Linked DNA regions of Homo sapiens. The protein of the gene in region 1 interacts with the protein of each later gene in a pairwise test. Each region holds a gene or a part of one and is shown in the gene's direction. Other genes may lie near its edges. The genes, in order: GAS2L3, TSR2 and FNDC3B.

The links.
Region 2: the proteins of GAS2L3 (region 1) and TSR2 interact in binary tests that used the Homo sapiens proteins (3 or more experiments, as listed by UniProt).
Region 3: the proteins of GAS2L3 (region 1) and FNDC3B interact in binary tests that used the Homo sapiens proteins (3 or more experiments, as listed by UniProt).

The regions. Positions count from the first base shown.
Region 1 is NC_000012.12:100,572,352-100,576,501, forward strand, and holds the start of GAS2L3 (GAS2-like protein 3), read left to right. Parts: upstream 1-1,332; 5' UTR 1,333-1,434; intron 1,435-1,995; exon of another isoform or gene 1,996-3,272; intron 3,273-4,150. UniProt on the Homo sapiens protein: Cytoskeletal linker protein. May promote and stabilize the formation of the actin and microtubule network.
Region 2 is NC_000023.11:54,445,832-54,448,549, forward strand, and holds the end of TSR2 (pre-rRNA-processing protein TSR2 homolog), read left to right. Parts: 3' UTR 1-277; coding exon of another isoform or gene 278-583; 3' UTR 584-1,479; coding exon of another isoform or gene 1,480-1,623; 3' UTR 1,624-2,201; downstream 2,202-2,718. Other genes in the region: FGD1 (FYVE, RhoGEF and PH domain-containing protein 1), read right to left, coding at 278-583, 1,480-1,623. UniProt on the Homo sapiens protein: May be involved in 20S pre-rRNA processing.
Region 3 is NC_000003.12:172,042,578-172,046,230, forward strand, and holds part of FNDC3B (fibronectin type III domain-containing protein 3B), read left to right. Parts: intron 1-3,653. UniProt on the Homo sapiens protein: May be a positive regulator of adipogenesis.

The DNA.
Region 1 (4,150 bases):
GGCTGTTTTCATTTCAGTTTCTTTAGCAAGCAACAGTACATCTCATTGTTTTTGTTGAGTAAAGGAAGGAATAAATGCTAGAGAGAGATGTCATTCCAGTTCAGTGCCCACCATTCACAGATGGAGACCTGAGGCCCAGAGAGGAGACATGATTTGAGGAAGGCTAAAAGACTGAATAGGGCCGGGTGAGGTGGCTAACGCCTGTAATCCCAGCACTTTGGGAGGCCGAGGTGGGAGGATCACTGGAGCCCAGGAGTTCAAGACCAGCCTGGGCAACATGGCAAAAACCCATTTCTACAAAAAACACAAAAATTAGCCCGGTGTGGTGGCACAGGCCTGTAATCCTGGCTACTCTGGAGGCTGAGGTGGGAGGATCTCTTGAGTCCGTGAGATCAAGGCTGCAGTGAGCCGAGATCGTGCCACCGCACTCCAGCCTGGGTGACAGGGCAAGACCCTGTCTCAAAAAAAAAAAAAAAAAAAAAAAAAAAAAAAAAAGAAGGGCCTGGGCTGCAACACAGGCCTCGGGGACAAAGCCAGTGATTTTTTTAAAAAATTATTTATTTATTTATTTTATTTTTTGCTATGAAACAAGCCACATTTACAGATATAACCGACTTGGGATTGTTACACTGATGTCTAGTCTCGGCTTTATTTCAACCCTGGGAGCTAGTAAGCATCCCTTACGTTGAAGTTCATTGTTTTTTTGTTTTGTTTTGTTTTGTTTTCAGGCTCCGGTGTTTGCTGAAGAGTCAACATCCTCCTTTTGTGACTTGGGACTACAGGATTCCTCCTCATCCCTCCGCACCTGAGAAGAGGGGCCTCTCTCTGAAAGATTTCTGCTGAGGACCCCCATTCCTGCTGGGTTCCAGGCTGCGTCTCTGGAAACCGTGGCGCCCTCAGGTCAGCCAGCTCCCGAGTGGATGTGGGGTTGGGAGCGGCTCTTAACAGACCAGGATAAAACTCAGGGAAGCGCCTTCAGCTGCACCGCAACATTCCAGGACGCTCAGAAGCAATTATTACAGGCGAGGTTCATTCACCTCTCAGGCCTGTGGGAACAACAGGACGGGCTGTGGCTTTCGAACTGGCTGTCGCTGAAAGGCCAGATCGGAGGACCTGCTCTGACTGAACCACTTCGCCTTTCAGTGAACAGAGGGACTTGGCCACCGAAGCTCCGAGACGCCCGGAGGCGCAGCGCTGGACGCGCTGACAGGCGAGCGCCCACGGGTCGCGTGCTTCCCGGCAGCCCGGGGGCGGGGCCTCAGACCACGCCCCCGCCTTATGATTGGTCCCTTCGAAACAGGCGGCGGCCAGCGGCTACTGACCCTGAGGCCCAGGCGGCGGCGGCAGCGGCGGCGGTTGGTCAGGGGCGTGTTGGCCCCGCACAGATTGAGCCGAGTTGTCGCCCCGCTGGGAGAAGTGACCCTCCTGCGCCTGGTGAGTACTTCCCTGTTTGTCTTCTCTTTTCCTGGCGAACTTTTACGCGCTGTCTCGGGGCCTCCGCGCCTCAGCCTGAGGGCTCCAGGAGCCCCCCGCTCTCTGAGGCCCCGAAGCTGAGGTTTGTTGGGTCTCCCGGCTGCGGGAGCCAGTACGCTCTGCGTTTGCCTGGCTGCGGCAGTCGCGTGCTCTGATTGGCTCCTGGGGCCGTCAAGGTGACGTTGCGCCTGCCTTCACCTGTCCACCCAAGTGCGGAGAGAGGGGCGACAGGTGTGCGGGGCGGTTGGGGCTGCTGGTGTGGGCGAGCTCAGCTGGGGAGGAGGGATCCAGCCGCTACTCGCCCTGCTTTAAATCCAGAGCGGTATCAGAGCCCGAAGGTACTGTGGGATCTTCAGGGGCACCCTCATCCCTAAGCGCCTGGCACTTAGAGGGTCTGTTTTTTTCTGTTCATCATCCTCGGAAAGAATTGATGAAGTCTCTGGCCCTGCAAAGAGAAAGAGACAGACAGTTATTCTTGCCCTCTAGCAAGGTTTATAGGCTCTTCCCTGTTTTTTCTCCCAGTCCATGCAGGGTCTAGAACGCCCACATGTGCGGAACTGGGGAATAGAGCTGGAGACCCTGCGCGATGCCTTCCGCCCACAACCCTCAGTTTGGAGGACTGCCCGGGGAGAGGCTGGCAAAAGAAAGGGAAGGCTTGTAGAGTGCCTTGGAAGTCAGAGGAAAGTTTTGGAGGGCGTGCTCCTCTATGCAGTCACCCGTGGTTCCTTTCCTAATCTTTTCACACCGAGGGATTGAATGTTGTAAATTTGAGTGCTTTGTGGCATGGCATGGTGGAATAGCTGATCCCCAGTGGTTGCAAAGAGATGATTTTAGGTCAGAGCCTGGGTTTTGCTTCGCTTGTGTGAAGAGCAAAAAACAAACAAACAAAAACAACAAGAACAACAGAACCGCTTTGTGAATTGCTATCTGATCACCTGTCTTGGCACTTAAATGATTAGAAATTGAAATTCTCACCACCTCAGATTCCCTTTGGGAACAAATTGGAACTGTTTCAAATGACAGAAGTGGAAACTCTAGTGATCTGGTGTAGATGCCGATACCTGTTGTCTGACTCATCTGTTTCAAAATCTCATTAGAAACCAACTGTCATTGAACAGTAGGTGTTTGCTATCTGACATTGAATTAGAAGTAGTAATTTTTTTTTTTTTAGCGTGACAGAGTTGCTAAGCAGGGGGGCTCTGAAATCAGACTTCATTGGATATCTGACTTTAGACACATTATTTAATCCTTCTAAGCCTAAATTTCCTAGTCTGTGAAAGAAGGTTAATAATAGTTCCTACTTTATTGAGAGGATTGTTGTAAAGATTAAATGAAATTCCACGTAACTAATTTAGCACAGTGCCTGATACATAGCTATTATTATTTCTCTGCTGTTTAACTTAGACAAAAAGTTTTGAGCTCTCCCCAAAGGATGGGGAGAGGTAGAAGGTGAAGGCAGTACCAGAGATAGGGATAATTATTGTTTATTGACTAAATTATACATGTAAAGCATTTAAAACAGTATCTGACACATCATAAACACGTGGATTACTATTTATCAAACACATCATTATATATCAGGTATTGTGTTCTTTACTTATATTATTGTTAAACCTCTTAGTAATCCTAAAATGTAGTTCATGTTATCTCTATTTTTTTTTTTTTTTTTTTTTTTGAGACAGAGTCTCGCTCTGTCGCCCATGCTGGAGTGCAGTGGCGCGATCTCGGCTCACTGCAACCTCTGCCTCCCGGGTTCAAGCGATTCTCCTGCCTCAGCCTCCCGAGTAGTTGGACTCCAGGTGTGTGCCACTACGCCCAGCTGATTTTTGTATTTTGGTAGACACGGGGTTTCACCATGTTGGCCAGGATGGTCTCGATCTCTTGACGTCGTGTTCCGCCCGACTCGGCCTCCCAAAGCTCTGGGATTACAGGCATGAGTCACCGCGCCTGGCCGTTATCTCTATTTTATAGGGGACAAAACTGAAGCTCAAAGAAGGGAAATCACTTACTAGGGTTCACCTGGAATTCAGTGCAGGCTTTTTTCTGTGTTACACACCTTTATATTCCTAACATTAAGTAACTTTCCTGCACTGGATTGTCAGTGTGACCCAGATTAATTTCTGCTGTGGGTATGGGTTTATTTTGAATACATTATGAATTTTAAAATAATGAGAAATAACTTGTGATGGTAAATCAAAATTTGTGATAAAAGAATAGTGTCAACAAAATGCATGCTATTAGTAAAAAAAACAGTGATATTTTGGAGTTTTGATGTTTGGAGAATGGCCACTTCAGAAATGATGTTCCTAATTTATATTTTGATAAATAGAAATGATGTTTGGAGAATTGGCTGTTTCAAAAGTAGTATCTCCTCATTTATATTTTCTCATTTAATTTTCATTTATTCACTATGTTTTTACTAAGCTACTCTTCCTTTTTTTTTCCTATCAATTTAAGTTTGGAGATAATAGGAAAGGTTCAGTTATTTGGATAGATTACTAAAGAGCTTGCTGTTGATGATGAGGAAAGTAAGAGATTAAACTTAATATGTATTCTTATGTTTTACTTTCTTACAGTAACGTGTGTATTTTACTTCTTATTATTGGTTTTCATACTTTGATATTAGATATACCAGTACATATCTAATGAGTCATGCAATGGACATAGAATGATATTA
Region 2 (2,718 bases), on another chromosome or scaffold:
GAAAAACGACCTAATTCAGGTAGGACTGGCAACGGCTCCCACCCTCCCTGGGGACAGGGATTAATAAAAATTGACATCACTGTAGGAATATATTTTTTAAAAGCCCACGTTTTGTGAAAAGATGAATTAAAAAACCCAAGACCCAGCATTCGGGATTGAAAGTGCCCGTGATGGGAGTTCAAGTATTGACTGAGCTGGGAGGGAAGGGGCTAGAGCCCCCAATCAGACATGGGCAACTAGAGTGTGGGGTGGGGGCTCCCAGTTTGTCCCAAACCCTCTAGGTCTTGTCTCGGGTCTGGGGGGATTCGGGGGGTTCAGCAGTGGCTCCTAAAGCAGCCACCGGTGCCTCCTCCATCTCCCTGTCCTCAGACAGTGTGGGCCCCGGGCAGAACGTGTCCCCTCGGCCCGCCCGGCCAAGCACAGCCATCCAGCGTCGCTGTAGTTCCTCTGTCTCAGGGCTGAAGTACCAGCTGAGGTGGCTCTGGGTGATCTTGAAGACATGCCTTCTGTCAGGCCGCTCCCCTGCCTCGGGCGGTCCCACCTCGAAGCCAATGAGGGGCAGGCTGCGCTGGGCTTTCACATCCTGGCGGGAGGAGGGACAGAGCTGGGGCCACCTTGGGGCTAGACCTTTCCCCCGCCCCAGCTTCTAACTGGTTTTGCATATGCTCTGTCTTCAGTCCCCTACTCAGGAACTCCCCTACTCAGGAACCTTCCGTGGCTCCAGTGTTATCAACAGGAACATGTCAGAACTGGGGCTAAAATGCAGGCTGGTTTAAATACCTGTCTCCCCCCACCCCCGCCTCTTCTCACAAAACTGCTGGGCTAGTCTCTTTAGCATACCAAATAATGTTTTCAGGCCTTTGTCTATGCTATTGCCCCTATCTGCATACTTTTTTTTTTTTTTTTTTTTGAGACAGAGTCTTGCCCTGTTGCCCAGGCTGGAGTGCAGTGGCATGAACTTGGCTCACTGCAACCTCTACCTCCCAGGTTCAAGCAATTCTCCTGCCTCAGCTTCCTGAGTAGCTGGGACTACAGGCACACGTCACCACGCCAGGCTAATTTTTGTATTTTTAGTAGAGACGGGGTTTCACCATGTTGGCCAGGCTGGTCTTGAACTCCTGATCTCAGGTGAGCCACCTGCCTCGGCCTCTCAGAGTGCTGGGATTACAGGCGTGAGCCACTGCGCTCGGTCCCATCTGCATACTCTTACCCACTCCAAATTGGACCTAGCAGTTCCCCATCTCTACTCCTTCCAGGAAGCCAGGCCCACAACTCATCCTGGTTTTCCCTACATACCACAACCACTCCTTGTCTCTAGCCAGTCTTTGTCTCTCAAGGGTTGGGGTTCTGATTTCCTCTTAGAGATAGGCTCACCTTATCTTCCAAGGCTCACCTTATCTTCCAAGGCCAAGGAGAGGTCAAGGACTGGATCTGGCTTTGCCAGGTGGCTGAAAGGACCCGAAGGAGTAGGATGCATACCTGAGGGGCTCCGTAGATATACAGCACCAAGGGTTCATTTTCAGGGACCACGAACCATGCCTTGTGCCATCCTTTGCCACCCTTCTCCATGTAGTGCAGGAAGCTGCAGATGACGCTGTTCTCTGCAGCCACTGAGGCCTGTTTCTGTGGCCAGAGACACCGGGCATCAATGTTGACAGAAGGCCTAGCCTGGCTCCTCCTAGCTTTAATACCTCCTCAGTGTAGGGACTGCTATTCCTATCTCAGATGAAGACGCTCAAGCTCAGGTGGCAGGAGTGATTTGTCCAGTGCCACCCAGTGAATCAGCTAGAGCTGAGATTCAAAGCTAGGTTCGTCTGCCTCATTTGGGCAACGGCTGCTGCCTCTACAGGCCAGTGGAAGGAGTGTGCGGATCTCAGGCATTCTTTCTTCAGTCAGAGCATTCATTCCTCAAGCCATTCACACATTTAGGCCTCATGCTTTTTTCTGTCTTTCATCACATCCATTTCCTACACTCATTGAGAGGTAATCTAGCATTGTGGTTTTAAGGGGGTATGTGGGTGGTTAATGAAGTCTGGCTTAGAATCCCAGCTCTAGATGAAAATGTATTGACTTGGAGAGCAAAGAGAGCTGATGTGAGAATTAAATGAATTAATATATGCAAAGTGCTTAGAATAGTTCCTGGCACAGAGTAAGTACTCTTTTAAGTGTTAAATAAATACCTAGATTTGTTTTTAAAAAAATCTCCAAAATGTGTGTTTGTGCATATATGCCTAGAAAGATAGGATAAGCCCTCACAATGGTAACTTTTGGGTAGAAGGGATACGGTATTTTATTATTTTTTGTTTATATTGGTCTACTTATCCTACTTTGTAATAACAAAAGACAATTTTTAAATTTTTTTTTTTTTTTTGAGACGGAGTTTTGCTGTTGTTGCCCAGGCTGGAGTACAATGGCGCGATCTTGGCTCACCGCAACCTCTGCTTCCCAGGTTCAAGCGATTTGCCTGCCTCAGCCCTCCCAAGTAGCTGGGATTGCAGGCGTGCGCCACCATGCCTGGCTAATTTTGTGTTTTTAGTAGAGATGGGGTTTCTCCACATTGGTCAGGCTGGTCCTGAACTCCCGACCTCCGGTGATTCACCCGCCTCAGCCTCCCAAAGTGCTGGGATTACAGGCATGAGCCACTGTGCCCAGCCAATTTTTTAATTTTAAAAAAATCCAGTGCTGCCACTCATTTGCTGTGTAATTTGGGCAAATGAC
Region 3 (3,653 bases), on another chromosome or scaffold:
TTATACATTATCTCATTAAAATTCTAGTATTTTCGATTTAGGTTGTGTTATGCACACTTTACAAACAAGGGGATTGAGATTTACAGAGAGAGAGTAACTTGCATAAGATCACGTAGCTACCAATGGTGTCATCCAATGGAATTTTCTTCAGTGTTGGAAATGGTTCTGTCTGTGCTGTCCAGCATAGCAGCCACAAGCCACATGTAACTGAGTCTTTGAAATGTAGCTAGTGGACTGAGGAACAACAGTTTAAGTTTTTTTTTTTTTTTTTGAAATGGAGTCTCGCTCTGTCGCCCAGGCTGGAGTGAGTGCAGTGGCGCAATCTCGGCTCACTGCAACCTCCGCCTTGCTGGTTGAGATGGATTCTCGCTCTGTAGCCCAGGCTGGAGTGCAGTGGCGCGGTCTCGGCTAACTGCAACCTCCGCCTCCCGGATTCAAGCGATTCTCCTGCCTTAGCCTCCCGAGTAGCTGGGATTACAGGCGCTTGCCACCACGCCCGGCTAATTTTTTGTATTTTTTAGTAGAGACGGGTTTTCACCATGTTAGCCAGGCTGGTCACGAACTCCTGACTTCAGGTGATCCACCCGCCTCGGGCTCCCAGAGTGCTGGAATTACAGGCGTGAGCCACCACACCCGGACTAAGTTTTATTTACTTGTAATTATTTTAAACTTAAATTTCCACTTGTGGCTAGTGGTTACCATATTGGAGAGCAAAGTGTAGAACTTTTTGACTCCCAAATCTTTCACATGTAGCTTGGTCATATTGCTCTTTATTTTACTTTGAGACAGACTCTCGCTCTGTTACCCCGGCTGGAGTGCAGCGGCATGATCACTGGCTCACTCACTGTAGCCTCCACCTCCCAGGCTGAAGTGATCCTCTCCCCTTAGCCTCTCCAGTAGCTGGTACTACAGGTGTGCACGCCACCATGCCAGGCTATTTATTATTATTATTGTTTTTTTGTAGAGACAGGTCTCACTAGGTTGTCCAGGCTGCATACTGCTCTTTAGATCTCTTAGTTCATTTTTCTTTCTTCTACGATATCAGAAGTTACATTCAGCCCTTAAATGGAATTTAAAGACTGAGTTAGCTATAGCTCAACTTTGCTTTCATATGTAGAGTGGATAAAATACGCACATTATTTGTTAACTCTTTGGTTTTAAAAACAATGTTTACATGTCATAGTTAAAACTGGTGGAAAAATCTTTAAATTGTATCTTTTTTGGTTTAATATAGGAATTGTGCATAGGAATTGCTGAAAAAGTAGTCAGAACTTGTTGGTTATTTTAGTGTAATAAGAGTACAAATAGGAAGCAATATGAAAAGTCACTAATAGAAAGCTGAAAAAAACGATCCTCTCATACCCGCGTCCATCCGTTCATTGGACAGTTCTTTTCAGACTTTGTAAGTATCAGTAAACCATTACTCACTTTTCCTTATGTAGCTGCAGAAGTAACCTGAAGAATTAAAATTATTCTTTTACTCTCAGTGTATAGAAATCAAATATCAAACACATTGGATTCATCCATGAATTGGGAAGAATATGTGTAAGATTAAAACAGTAAGAAAGATCTGTCCGATGGCAGATGTTCAAATCATTTTCTGATTAGTGGATTTAATTTAAATTCATTGAATTTTAGAGTTTCATTTGCTAAAAGGAATTTCAACAACTTTCTGATTTTGTATGGAATAGTGAAAATTCCAACTCTTTTTTTTTTTTTTTTTTTGGTGTGCTACCCTCAGGAAAAGGCAAATTATAATGTAATCTCTTTTTATTAGGATTTTTAAGAGGCAACTGCCAGGTTCAGTATAAATATATCTGAATCTATTGTATCTTCCATAGTTATGGTACTGTCCTGGGATAATTGCAGTTCATAGTCTTAACTCTAGACATATCCTGGAGGACCTATGTCTGTAAATTATCTTTGAATTGTTCTATGTTATTTTAGTGTTATGTGAATTACATTGCTTCCAGCTCTTTGAAAATCGTTAATTCAACTGCAGGTAAGGCGTCAGTTACTGAGACTGTTCAGATAACTGAAACATCCTGTTCATACCCATTCCTGACCATTGGGACCACTGTACTATTTTCAAGGATAAGATACCACTGTACTATTTTCAGGATAAGAACCATGTTATAAATAGAATTATAGTGTCCTAGTGAGTGTGACAAATATAGGAAACATGATTTAACCCATGACATATGGTTTGATTTGTAGGACATCCCCAAGTGCTTAATACAAATGAGAAATGTACTATAATCTTAAGGCATAAAGATGTTTAAATGATGGACAAAAATTGAGGGCCACATCTGAGCATCAGTTTGAAATCAGAATATCTCCTCTGTCAAGGAGTGACTTTACTTTCTAGCTGGGTCCTTGATAAGCTTTTGAATCTCTCTGAGTCTGGGTTTCCTCATTTTAATATAAGGAGGAAAGATCTAACTCGTACCTTTTCAAATGGTGTCACAAGGGATTAATGAGTCAGTGTATTGAGAAGTGTTTGGCAAAGCCTTATACAAACTCCATAGTTCATTATATTCCAGAGTTTAAAACTGAGCTGGTGCTATGGTATTTCTCTGCACATTTTCAGAGACCTCCAAATTGTGCTTGGACAGTTTGAAAAATGATTTATTTTTCTCTTTGTGATCAGTAAACAAGGTCCAAGCTTTAGATGTTGTATTTTATTTTACCCCACTCCTAATGGAATAGGTGATTTGTGACCTCTGCAAAGTTGTACTATACATAAGTTGTCCCATATCTGTGTTTTTGGGAAGCTGGTCTGTAGCTGGGCTAGTGTTGCTGAAGTGGGCAGGCCAGGCTTGATTCAGGGCTGTTTTTGAGGTGGCGGGAAAAAGTGCAGTCTCTTAGAGGAACGTTCAGTACTGAATGATAAAGGAATAAGGTTTTAGGCCTTGTATGTTACCTTAGCCTATTACTTGAGCTTTCAGCAATTACAGCTGAGAATGGAAAAGAATCGTATTTTCAGTGTAGGGGAGTCTTTGCAACCTACCTGCCTTTCCACTTTAGAAATCACAATTGCCTTTTCTTCTTGTTAACGAGGTTAATCCATTAAGTGGGATATTTATATGGTAAGACATTATTTTCAAGTAAATTAATTCTCACTCTTAAGGCTGTTGAGAATTCACTTAGGTGGTTGAGGAGAAGCTTTGTACTTTAGTTTACTGAGTGTCTCTCTCTCTCTCTCTCTCTCTCTCTCTATATATATATATACACTTTGCCTTAAAATATATATTATGGTTATGGCATTATGTGTTGTAAAGAGGGAGAGAATGCTTGAATTATTGTGGCTAGATAGGGGCAGGTAGACAAGCACAGGCCCAACTGGAAGGATGACTTGATGGTAGTTGAGCACTTTGCAAGGTACCTCCAGTGAGATGCCAGACCCTAGTAACAAGCTCACCTGGAGGGGAGTTTGTTTGTGGTGCAGGTTTAATGTCAAGGACCAGTTCTTGGAAACAGAAGGTATGTGGGGTGCCAGTTGAAGATCAGGGGACAGAAATGTTTTTAAAACCACCAAGTATAAATCACATAAGATCGATAGACAGTCGTGATCAGCCATCTACATACAGATGAGGATGTTTGTCAGTTTGAAAATGGATCGATTGTTGAATTTTTCTTTGTTTCTCCCCAGT